Linked DNA regions of Homo sapiens: region 2 is linked to region 1. Evidence: fine-mapped expression QTL. A gene starts in region 1. The other region holds a variant in brackets. All regions are shown on one strand. Distances are from middle to middle.

Region 1 (5,378 bases):
AAGATGTTCTCTTTTCTAATAAACCATCTACTAAGAATATCCGTTAGTCATGTTCTCTTTTCTCCTGAAAGTCAGGCGTGGGTGTCTGCCTAATGTCCGGGTCCAGTACAGTGTCTTCTGTGTGCTGAAAGACAGTCGGAGTTTCTCTTCTTCCTGTGGTTTTGTGGGCAGTGTCGTTTTGTGCCAACCTGCTGTCTGGGACTGATGAGCGCTCACCCAGCCACCCTGAGACTTGGTGGTGGACAGATGCACCCTGCTTCCTGAGATAGGTGCTGGGACCCACAGGGTGTTGAACAGATCCCTCTGGTCATGAAAATGGCCCTCTGGCAGCCTCTCAGTGACCTGTGTAAACCAAAAATAAAATTCTAAGTCCCCCAACCATCTGAATGGACCCCTCGCCTCGGCCAATAGCCTTCCAAAGTTAACCTGAAAAACTAGTGCAAACCGTGGTGGGAAGGGAGGGTCGAACGTGCCTCATTATTTCCTGCTCCCTTTTGGAACTCAGGCACAACTGACCAGCATTAACATTAAAACAGACCTTAGGATTGACAAAGCTGATTCTTTGTAGCAATAAGACACCAAATTCCAGCCTGGCTGTAGTATAGCATCACATGACAGAGAGCAGGCCCTGAAAAAAAAAAATCAAAGTATTTTGCCCCAAGTTATGTTTATTTGCTGTATCTCAAAATAGTCCTGCAAAGCTGTCTCTTGTGGGGAAAATCTATATTTCGAAGAGAATCCCCTTCCTTTTCGTGCTCCAGGAGAGAATTAATTCTGATAAGAAACATTTACAACCTATTCTCTCTGAAGCCTGCTACCTGGGGCTTCCTCTGCATAATGGGAACCCTGGTCTCCACAACCTCTCATCTTAACCCAGACATTCTCTTCTGTTGATTCTAGGTCTTTAGATGATAATACAACTTTTTCAACCAATTGTCAATCAGAAAATCTTTGAATGTATCTATGACTTGAAGCCTCTGCTTTGAGTTGTCCTGCCTTCCCGGACCAAACCAACGTACATTTTCTATGTATTGATTTATTTCTTGTATCTCCCTAATATATATAAAACCAAACTGTAACCTGACCACCTTGGGCAGGATCTCCTGAGGTCTGTGTCACGGGCTATTGGTCACTCATATTTGGCTCAGAATAAATCTCCAAGTATTTTATAGAGTTTGACTGTTTTTGTAGACACCTGGGACAGGAACTCTTGGCAGAGCAGACCCCTGGAGGCAGCACCCCTGCTGCTGTGCCTGCTTTCAAAACCCCATGGCTCGTCCTTCGTCCCCTCCTCTCTGTCTCTCTGTGACTTGAAGAAGGATGAAAGGCGGCCTGCAGGTGGACCACAAAAGTGGGAAGCATCATTCCCACCCAAGAAAGGAAAGAGAACAGAAGACGCCTGATCAGAGCCTTCCTGAGGTCTCATCTCCCCTATCTCCGGGGAGCTGAGAACCACCCCCAAGGATTTGGTGGGTCCCCTCCCCAACAGGCCCCTCCACCTCTGGTGAAAGAGCTCTGCCCACTTCTCTGCTTAGTCTGAGCTGATAGGAGGGAAAAGGAGAGCACTGTATGAGTCACAGGTCTCATTACCTCCCCTCATAGCCCAGGGGAAGGGGAGATGGCAGAGGCGGGTAGCAGGCAGGGCTGGGGATGTGCCATGGGGTTCCCCTGGCTTCTCCCCACAGAGGCTGAACCTCCTGGGGGAACATTTGAAAGCCTCAGAGACCAGCTATGGTGCCAAATACTAATGGCCTCAGTTTCCCTTCCTATCCCCCACCTTTGCACGAGTGTGAGTACTCACCCCCCGTCAACTATGTGACCTTGGGAAGACCCCTCTGAAAGACCTCACACCATTCATGTTAGTCCTCCTTCCCCACCTCCCCACACCATCCACACACCACATGCATCAAGCCCCACCGACTTCAGTCCTCAGCATCCTCGCCCCTCAAGAGGGCTGAGAAAAGGAACCATGCTCTTCACGAGCCACCATACAGACGTGGGAATTCCCCTGAAGGTCAGAACCACAGCTCCTTCTCAGCAACTCCTTCTGGCCCCAGGAGTGGGAGGTCTCATGGTCCCAAACAAAACGGAATTGCCTGTGACTCATACCCAGCCCTGCCTATTGAGAAATCTACTTCCGGTGTTGGGGGTGTGGGGTGGTGCGGAACTGGAGCCAGGAAGGGGTGTGTTTGTGTGTGTGTGTGTGTGTGTGTGTGTGTGTGTGTGTGTTCCTCAGCTTCCTGGCTACTGAGTCTTCTCAAGACCAGAGCTCCCTGGCTTTTCAGAAAACCAGCTCTCAAATCATCTAGATCATCTATCCCCCTTACTAGGTAGTCCAGTGTGGCCCAAAGCCTATTTGGACTTTTTTTTTCTTAAAGGAGAAGAAAAAAAGAACCAAGTGAAAACAGAAAATAATTCAGCCACGTGAAGCTGAATTATTATAGCTGCCCCATGTGAGTCGGGAAAGAGAAGGGTGCTTCCTAAAACATGTTAGACAAGGCACTCTGCGGCTTAGTCCCATCCTCCACGCCCCGAAGTCTGCAGCTCTCTCATCATCTTTGCTGCTTGAGTTTTGAGAGGGGCCCAGTGTGCCTTCTGCAAAGCCTGTGCCACTTGCTTCGAAATGTGGCTGTCTCTGGAGGGTTCTCACGAGTCCCACGCTGGATCCTGAGGGCACAGAACTGAAGCTGTTTCAGTTTTTGGTTTGCATGTTGTTGTTACTGTCGCAAAAGGGAAATATCAACTTGGATATTAACAAAATGGAGAACTGAGACCCACCCTGCGATTTTTGCCATTTTCTCATTTTGGTAGAACAAGAGCAAAGAACAAAGGCGCCTTCTAATGGCATAACCTAACTTTTAAGGTAACAGCATCATTATATGTTTAAAGCAAGAAAAGAAGAGGAAATAATGTTTGTCAAAATCTATCATGTGTCAGACATTTTACCGAACTTTCTCCCCTAAGCCCAATGACATAGGTACTTGTGTCCCCATTCCATGATGGGGAAATGGGGGCTAAGAAAGGTGCGGTGACTTGGTTAAGGTCATACGTGTAGAGATGAATGCTAGAGAAAGGATTCAAAATCAGGTCTGGCTGTTGCTGAGTTTCCTGTATTTTCCAAGTTCTTACACTTTCCCTAACTTCCCTGCCTTCATCTCTGTCCTCTCCTCTGCTTACTCTGTTCTTTTCTGTTCCTCAAACACACAAAGCTCATTCCCACATCAGGACTTTCTGTCTCTCTTTGTTTGGCTGCTTCCTTTCTTATCATTTGGGACTCATCACAAAGGCCACCTTCTTGTAAGGTGACCTGACCATTCCTTTTAAAGTAGTACCCTCTGGGATATTGCTCTGTTAATTTACTTTACAGTACTTCTCACTCACCTACTTTGTTTATTTCCGTAGTCTGTGACCCCCTACCCACCCCTCACTGACCCTGCAACAGACACTAGAATGTAGGGCTAGTGAGAGCAGAGGCCTCTTCTTTCTTGTTCTTCTCTATATCCAAAGAGTCTGGAGAAATGGCTGGGACATTGAGGACATTCAGAAATATTTGTTGGATGGATAGGTGGGTGGGTAGATGGATGGATAAACAGGTGGGTGAGTAGACGGATGAGTGAGTGGGTAGATGGACAGGTGGATGGGTAGATGGATGAGTAGATGGATGGATGGACGGATGGGTAGGTAAATGAATAAAATGGTAGATGGATGGACAGGTGGGTGGGTAGATGGATGAGTAGATGGTTAAATGGACAAGTGGGTAGGTAGATGGATGAAAGAGTAGATGGATGGTTGGATGGGTGAGTAGGTAGATGGATTAGTGAGTAGATAGATGAATGGATGGATGGGTAGATGGATGGATGGATGAAGATGAATGAGTTGGTGAATGTACGTATGTATGAATGTATGGTGTCTACTATATGGCAGGTTCCAGTGAGGATGTAGAGATGAATAAAATGATGTCTCTTTGATCCAAATGTTTGCTTTGAAATGAGGGAGACCTTCTCAATAGTCAAGTAGTTGCATCAAAGTATATTAGGTGTTCTGAGGGAATATCAGATCTCAAAAGCACATTTGGGATAGAAATGAGGAAGGGATCCATTTTTGCTGCTGGAGGGTGATCAGAAAATGCTCTATATGGGAGATAACACTGTATCTGATCCACGAAGGATAAGTGGTTATTATTCAGGTAATCAATGAATTTAAAAGCTTCCCTGCAGCCTAGGAAAAGGGAAAGAAGCTGAACACAGTCTTAGAGTCTAAAAACTGCAAGCTATTTGGTGTGATGGGACAAGAGGTGTGAAAGATCTGGTCTTGATTGCTACTGCATATTCAGTGTTTAGCATTCAATTACCCTACTATTGGCACTTCATAATAGTACTCAAGAATAGGTCCTCAATAATTATTTGTTGAAGAAAGGAACAAAAGGAGAGCACAGGGAAAAGTAAAGCTGGCAAGATTGACCTGTGCTGGGTACTGCTGGGCTAAGGAATGTAGATGCTAGTCAGAGGAAAATGGACCATCACAGAAGGGTTGATGAGATGCATGTTTCTGATGGTCACCCTGCTAAGCACAGGAACTGTGTTGGGGAAAGTCCAGGAAGTGGCAGGAATAGACAGAGTGGACTATGGCTATGGTCCGAGTGTGGGATGTTGAGGACCTGAGCTAATCAGGATAGTGTACGTGAAAAGGTAAAGAGGGATTCTAGAGACTTGAGGAAGGTAGAACTAGAGTGCTATCCATGGTTCCATATGGATGAAGAAGGGAAGAGGGAGGGAATATAAAGAGAAGAATTTTCCATGCCCCTGCTGGAATGACTAGATGCTAGCCACTGGAATACAAAATGTATGGGGTGGGGTTCACCATGAAGCTAATGAAGGTTATGTGCGAGAATCCCTCCCTTTCACATCCACTATCAAGGTCCTAAACCTACTCTTGTATTCATTGTTTTCTTTTTATTTATTTTTTCCTAAAGAGCCCCTTCCTGGCCAATTATAGAATCCTCAGGCTCCACCAAGCCTGGATCTTCCCCTGGAAATACAAGGAGAACAGTTTGGGGGAAAGGATTCCATTTGGATTGTGAATTCCATTTGGGGCATGGTAGGTTAGAGGTGGATGAAAAACCTTGAGGTGGAGATGTTCTGCAAGGAGCACAGTGTGGGACAGGGCTTGAATCCTGGCTTCATGCTGTGTGGACATGGGCAAGTTGTTTGAGCTCTGTGCTCAGTAAAATGGGATGTTAATGATAGTACACCCTGATAGGGTTGTAAAGATTAGATGAGACAACATAGGTCAAATGCTTAGAACAGTGCCTAGCACATAGTGAGTGTTGAAAACAAGTTGCGTGTTGGCTTTTGGTATTCTGTGGGGCAGTGTATATC
Region 2 (5,378 bases), 49 kb before region 1:
GCCAAGGCCGCAGCAAGCACTCACGACCAAGATGTGGCCTGCAGCAGGGGAGATGCTGACAGTCCGGACTTGATGGCTGATGGGACGGGAAGGGGCAGGGTGCCTGGGATGGGGCGTGGAGGCTGGGGGATCTTGAGAGTGCTGAAGGTCAATGAGAAGTGGGTCTGGGCAGTGCAGGATGGTCAGGTGTTCTGTCATCGCTAGTATGACTCGGCCCCACCCGGTGGAGAGAGGTCTCAGGGCCCACTGGAGGCAGCTCCTACCCATGACCCCTGCCTCTGCGTTGGCATTCAGTAGCCCTTGATTTATCCCAATGCAAGAAACAAATTTTCAATAACTGGTAACATTCTCCGGGAGTGATATGGGCCAGAGCAGGCTGGTTTTCAGGCTGCCTCCCTGGTCCTGAGATTGCCAGCTCAGAGGAGCATCCCCTGAATGAACTGTCAGCAGGATGTGAAGGAAGGACATGCTGGAGCCACTGCTGTCCTCTCCCCTGCCGCCCAGGCTTGACCAGGTGTGGTGCTGATAGCAGGCTGCAGGAGCTGGGAGGAAGCAGTGGAAATGCCCTTCGTGTTTTTGCCAAGCAGCTGGGTTGTGGGCTAGCTGCTCCTTCCGCCTATGTCCATCATAGGGGTTCAAGTGGCTGGGGCTCCAGGCTAGCTGGGTGTCCTCTGGAATCACTGTGAAGGGCCAAGAAGACTCTCATCCCACCCTCCAACTCTGAAGGTAGGGGCCATAGTCTGCCCTCAGCTTTTCCTGTGAGTCTTAGCCTGGAGCAGGTGAGTTCTAAATTCCCTCCCATTGTCTGTCCTGGGGACCTTACACTGCAGGGCTTGGGAAAAAGCTGGTTGGTTTCAGATCATTCAGATAACTCAGGCTTAGCTGGACCCAGGACAGGAGAGAAAGGATGCATTCAGGCCCCGGCTTCTGGGTTTGGCCATGAAGAGTGAATTCCTGCCCAGTGTCTTGCCAAACAGGCCCAGCATAAAAGATCCAGAGGAACCCTGAGCAGGCAGAGGATACACTAGGCCCAGGATGGACAGAAGCCTCTACTTCAGAGCTCATCCATAGACCTCTTTTTAAGAAGGTAAAGAAGGAGCTGTTGTTGCAATTTCATAGATAAGTCAAAACATATTATTATTAATAATAGCATCTTCCACTTTTTTGAGTTCTTATCGTGTGCTGGGCTTCTGTGCTCAGTGCTTTACATGCATCATCTCATTTAATCCCCATGACAGTTCTCCTAGGCAGGTAGCCTCACAAACCCATTTTACAAGGCCCAGTGAGGTTGTGGCAGTTGCCAAGGTCACACAGCTCAGAACTCAGGCCTGTCTGACTCCATAGCCACACTGCTATTTAAGGAGCTAGGTTAGCCAAGGTCACAGTCAGAGGCATTGGAGAGACTCAGGCCAGGCCCCCTCACCGTCAGCTCAGGATGCTGGATTATATGCTACTGAGGACCTGGCAGTGTCCAACAGCTCTGAATGCCAGATTCCTGAGGAGCCAGCGTCTCCCCAGCCTCAGCTACTCCCTGGCTGGCTGGGGCCCTAGATCTGAGTGCAGCATCTGCATTTCCCAGGCTGTGAGAACTACAGTGCAACCCTCCTCTGTGTTGCTGGAGTGAATGCCCTCAGGGCAGGCAGCTTCCAGGGTGGCACCTCATATAAATCCAGGGAGTGGCCGAGGCCTGCAAGGAATCTGGCTCAACACCTGCCATTTGGGTCTCAGTTTTACACATTTTGATCTTGCACATGATTTCACTAGGGCAAAATTAAGTGCATGAAGGAATCACACATTCCTGGGTCTCGCCCTCAGTGATGCAGAGTGGGTAGGGACCTGGGCTATGGGGGCCCTGTAGGTATTCTGCTGCAGATGGGGGCACCACACTTGCAGCTCAGAACAGAGATAAAACCAGATAAAACTCCGCTTTATGACTGCTTTGCATCACTTTCCAGCTGGCCTCATCTGAACAGGGCAGAAAGTTCCTAATAACAATAATCAACGTCAGAATTAAATGTGTGTCATGCTCTGCTGGCACAAAACTCTTTTCAATGCATTCTTTCTTTCCTTTGGATCCCAGTGTCAAATACCCGCTTGCCAACATAGTTTGTTTGCTGTACACAGGTTGAAACTGCAAAGGTTTTCAATTTTAAATTTAGCTAATATTTTACTTTTTTTTTTTTTTTGAAATGGGATCTCGCTTTGTTGCCTTACCTGGAGTGTAGTTGCGAGATCATAGCTCACTGCAGCCTCCAACTCCTGGGCTCAGGTGATCCTCCCACCTCAGTCTCCTGTGTAGCTGGGACTACAGGTACACCACCATGCCCACCTGGATAATTTTTAACTTTTTTTGTAGAGATAAAGTCTTGCTATGTTGCCTAGGCTAGTCTCGAACTCCTGGGCTCAAGGGATCCTTCCCCTTCGGCTTCCCAAAGTGTTAGGATTACAGGTGTGATCTGGTTTCTAACTTCTCTTAAAGTGTTGGAGGTCTGGCTATTATAGATCTTCTGGATGGCCTGACATCCATTGCCTGGAGGGAGTGGTGACTGCCTGTCTGGAGGCAGCTGGCTCTCTCCCTATTGACAGGCCCTGCCACACCCTGGCAATTCTTCCTGGCACCAAGGCAAGAGTCAGTGGGCACCTGTCATCTCATTGCTTTGCCTGCTTCACCCTCTGACAATACCTTCATGAGCCCTGTAGGCAATTGAGCACATGATCTCGATTTCAAATACACAGCCCACTTGGCCTGTGTCCCTCCCTGGTTTCCTTAGATAGCTCTGTGTGAAGTCCTTCTTTCATAATATCCTTTGAAACCGATATTCACCCATTTAAGTGATGAAGCTTCAGGGCTCAGAAAGAGTGAGAAATTTGCCAAAAATTCTACAGCCAATCCAAGCAGAGCCAGGACTCCAAGGTAGGACCTGCGCCCAGGTGTGTAGCCTGTACCCCGAGCAGCTCCAGCACCGCCATCCACACACAAGACACAAATGAGAGCGTGCTCTCCAGACCTGTACAGCGCATGGCCTGCCAAGCTTTAGACCAAAGCCCCGACTCCAATCCAGGGGCCCGACTACAAAGCTGGTATTTTTCTTTACTCCATATCAAGCCCTTGGCTAAGAAATGGGGATTTCCAAGCCCACAGCTGCTCTTGTTTCTCCCCACAGTGCTCCTACATCCCAGGCAGC[G/C]TGGACAATTACCAGACGGCCCGGGCCGACGTGGAGAAGGTCAGAGCCAAATTCCAAGAGCAGCAGGTCTTCTACTGCTTCTCCGCACCTCGGGGGAACGAAACCAGCGTCCTATTCCAGCGCCTCTACGGGCCCCAGGCCCTCCTCTTCTCCCTCTTCTGGCCCACCTTCCTGCTGACCGGTGGCCTCCTCATTATCGCCATGGTGAAGAGCAACCAGTACCTGTCCATCCTGGCGGCCCAGAAGTAGAGCCATCCATCCATGCCATACCACTTGTCAGGGCACAGGGGACTGGCTGGGCCCCCAGGGCTGCTCCCCACTTGCAGCACAATGCCTTCTCCACCTGCCCTCCCACTCTTCCAGTCCAATCCACGCTGTCTTCTGTTGCAGGACTAACCTTTGAGAAATCCTTTTGTGAAGTCATTGCCTGCTCAAGAATGTACAGTGGCTCCCCAATGCCTTGGAGGCCATAAGGCCAGCCAGTTCTAGCTCTCTATTACCTGTCCCCACTCAACTGACTCATACCTGTTTCCGGCTGCATCACTATGTGCCCCACAGAGAACGATGATCGTCACCTCTGTGCCTGAGTTCTCCCTGTTGTCTCAAAGCGGTACCCATCCTCCCCCAGAAGCTGTCCCCAGCGAGCCTCCCTTCTTTGTTTGAATTCTCTAATAAGAGCAACAGCAGCTCCCATTTCTAGAACACATTTACAGTATTACTATTTTCTAGGATATAAAGTGCCATATATATTTTTAATTCCAATATTAATAAATGTATGCCAAACAACAATCAGCTGCAAGGAAACACATGAGAACTCATCAAAATTTTAGCGGTGGGATGGTGGTTAATTTCTGTTTTCTTCCTTATCCCCTTTTTATTTTTGCTGCTTTTCTAAATTTTTGATTATAGGAAGGGTGTGTTTCGTTTGCTTTTAATCAGAAAAGCCATGGTAGATGCCATTTTGGAAAAGTTGAAAGAGTGTGTCCCCCTCACAGAAAAAGATGGAAGTGGGTCTGGGGACGGAGTTGGGTTCCAGTCAGAGACAGGCCATTCAGAACACACAATCTTAAAAACCCCTCTGGGCCGGGCGCGGTGGCTCACTCCTGTAATCCCAGCACTTTGGGAGGCCGAGGCTGGTGGATCACGAGGTCAGGAGATCAAGACCATCCTGGCTAACATGGTGAAACCCCGTCTCTACTAAAAATACAAAAAATTAGCCAGGCGTGGTGGTGGGCACCTGTGGTCCCAGCTACTCAGGAGGCTGAGGCAGGAGAATGGCGTGAACCCGGGGTTCGGAGCTTGCAGTGAGCCGAGATTGTGCCACTGCACTCCAGCCTGGTGATAGAACAAGACTCCGTCTCAAAAAAAAAACAAAAAACAAAAAATGAAAAACAACCCTCTGGAGGAAAGGTCATGATATAGAGGAGGATTTGTTATTTAAATTGAGGGTATGGACTCTGGCACTGAGCCTGCTGGGGAAGCCTATCTCAGATTTGAAAAGGGCAAAATGGGAAGAAGCCATCACCTTTACCATTCCCACTCCAGGAAGTTTTCCTAGAACGATGACTGTCCAAGTGTGGTCCCTGGGCCAGCAGCATCAGGATCCTGTGGCAGCTTGTGAGAAATGCACACTCTCAGGCCCCTGTCCCAGCCCCACCACGCCAGAAGCCCTGCACGGGGTGGGGGTAGCAATGTTCTGTGTTCTAACAATGCGTAGGGGATTCTGTGGCACACCTCGAGCCAGAGAACTACCGGTGTAGGAAGTGAGCGTCCTGTCGCGAGGATTTTCAGAGCAGGTGAGTGACCATTCGGCAGGGCCAGTCCTGAGCTGGGTGTGAAGTTAGGCTGGTGTCTGAAGTTTCTTCCAGTGTTGTGAGTCCAAGATGCAGATCTTGGGTTTGAATCCTGTCTCTACTCTGCCCGATTTCATCTCTTTGATTCTTAGTTTTTTCATCTATAAAAGAAGGACTCTTTCTGGATAGTTGGGAGGGCTGAAGGAATGTTTGACACATCATAGGTGTTTAAAATGGCAACTATAGTTTTTTTTGTTTGTTTTGTGTGTGTGTTTTTTTCTTAACTTTCATTTTAAGTTGCAGGGTACACGTTCAGGTTTGTTACATAGGTACACTTGTGTCAAGGGAGTTTGTTGTGCAGATTATTTCATCACCCAGGTATTAAGTCTAGTACCCATTA

Which allele goes with the higher level. Alleles are on the strand shown, and positions count from the first base shown. SD is a standard deviation of normalised expression in the study named.
In carriers of allele G in region 2, the expression in uterus of the gene that starts at base 2,083 in region 1 tends to be lower than with C alone (large effect, 1.2 SD a copy in GTEx).

What was found.
Region 2: its variant is fine-mapped to the expression of LINC01366 in uterus (GTEx, PIP 0.95).

The regions. Positions count from the first base shown.
Region 1 is chr5:170,328,098-170,333,475 of GRCh38, reverse strand. LINC01366 (long intergenic non-protein coding RNA 1366) reads right to left here and starts at 2,083. Exons shown (of 2, transcript NR_108025.1): 1 at 1,899-2,083; 2 at 1-342. RefSeq lists enhancers at 1-15, 1-781, 1,847-2,016, 1,581-2,780.
Region 2 is chr5:170,376,760-170,382,137 of GRCh38, reverse strand. KCNMB1 (potassium calcium-activated channel subfamily M regulatory beta subunit 1) reads left to right here. Exons shown (of 4, transcript NM_004137.4): 4 at 3,165-5,378. The coding sequence ends at 3,434. It also overlaps a transcript of KCNIP1 not described here. Among named protein-coding and RNA genes, the nearest start is that of KCNMB1, 9.9 kb to the left of the region's middle. The variant G/C (reference allele first, on the strand shown) is at 3,186.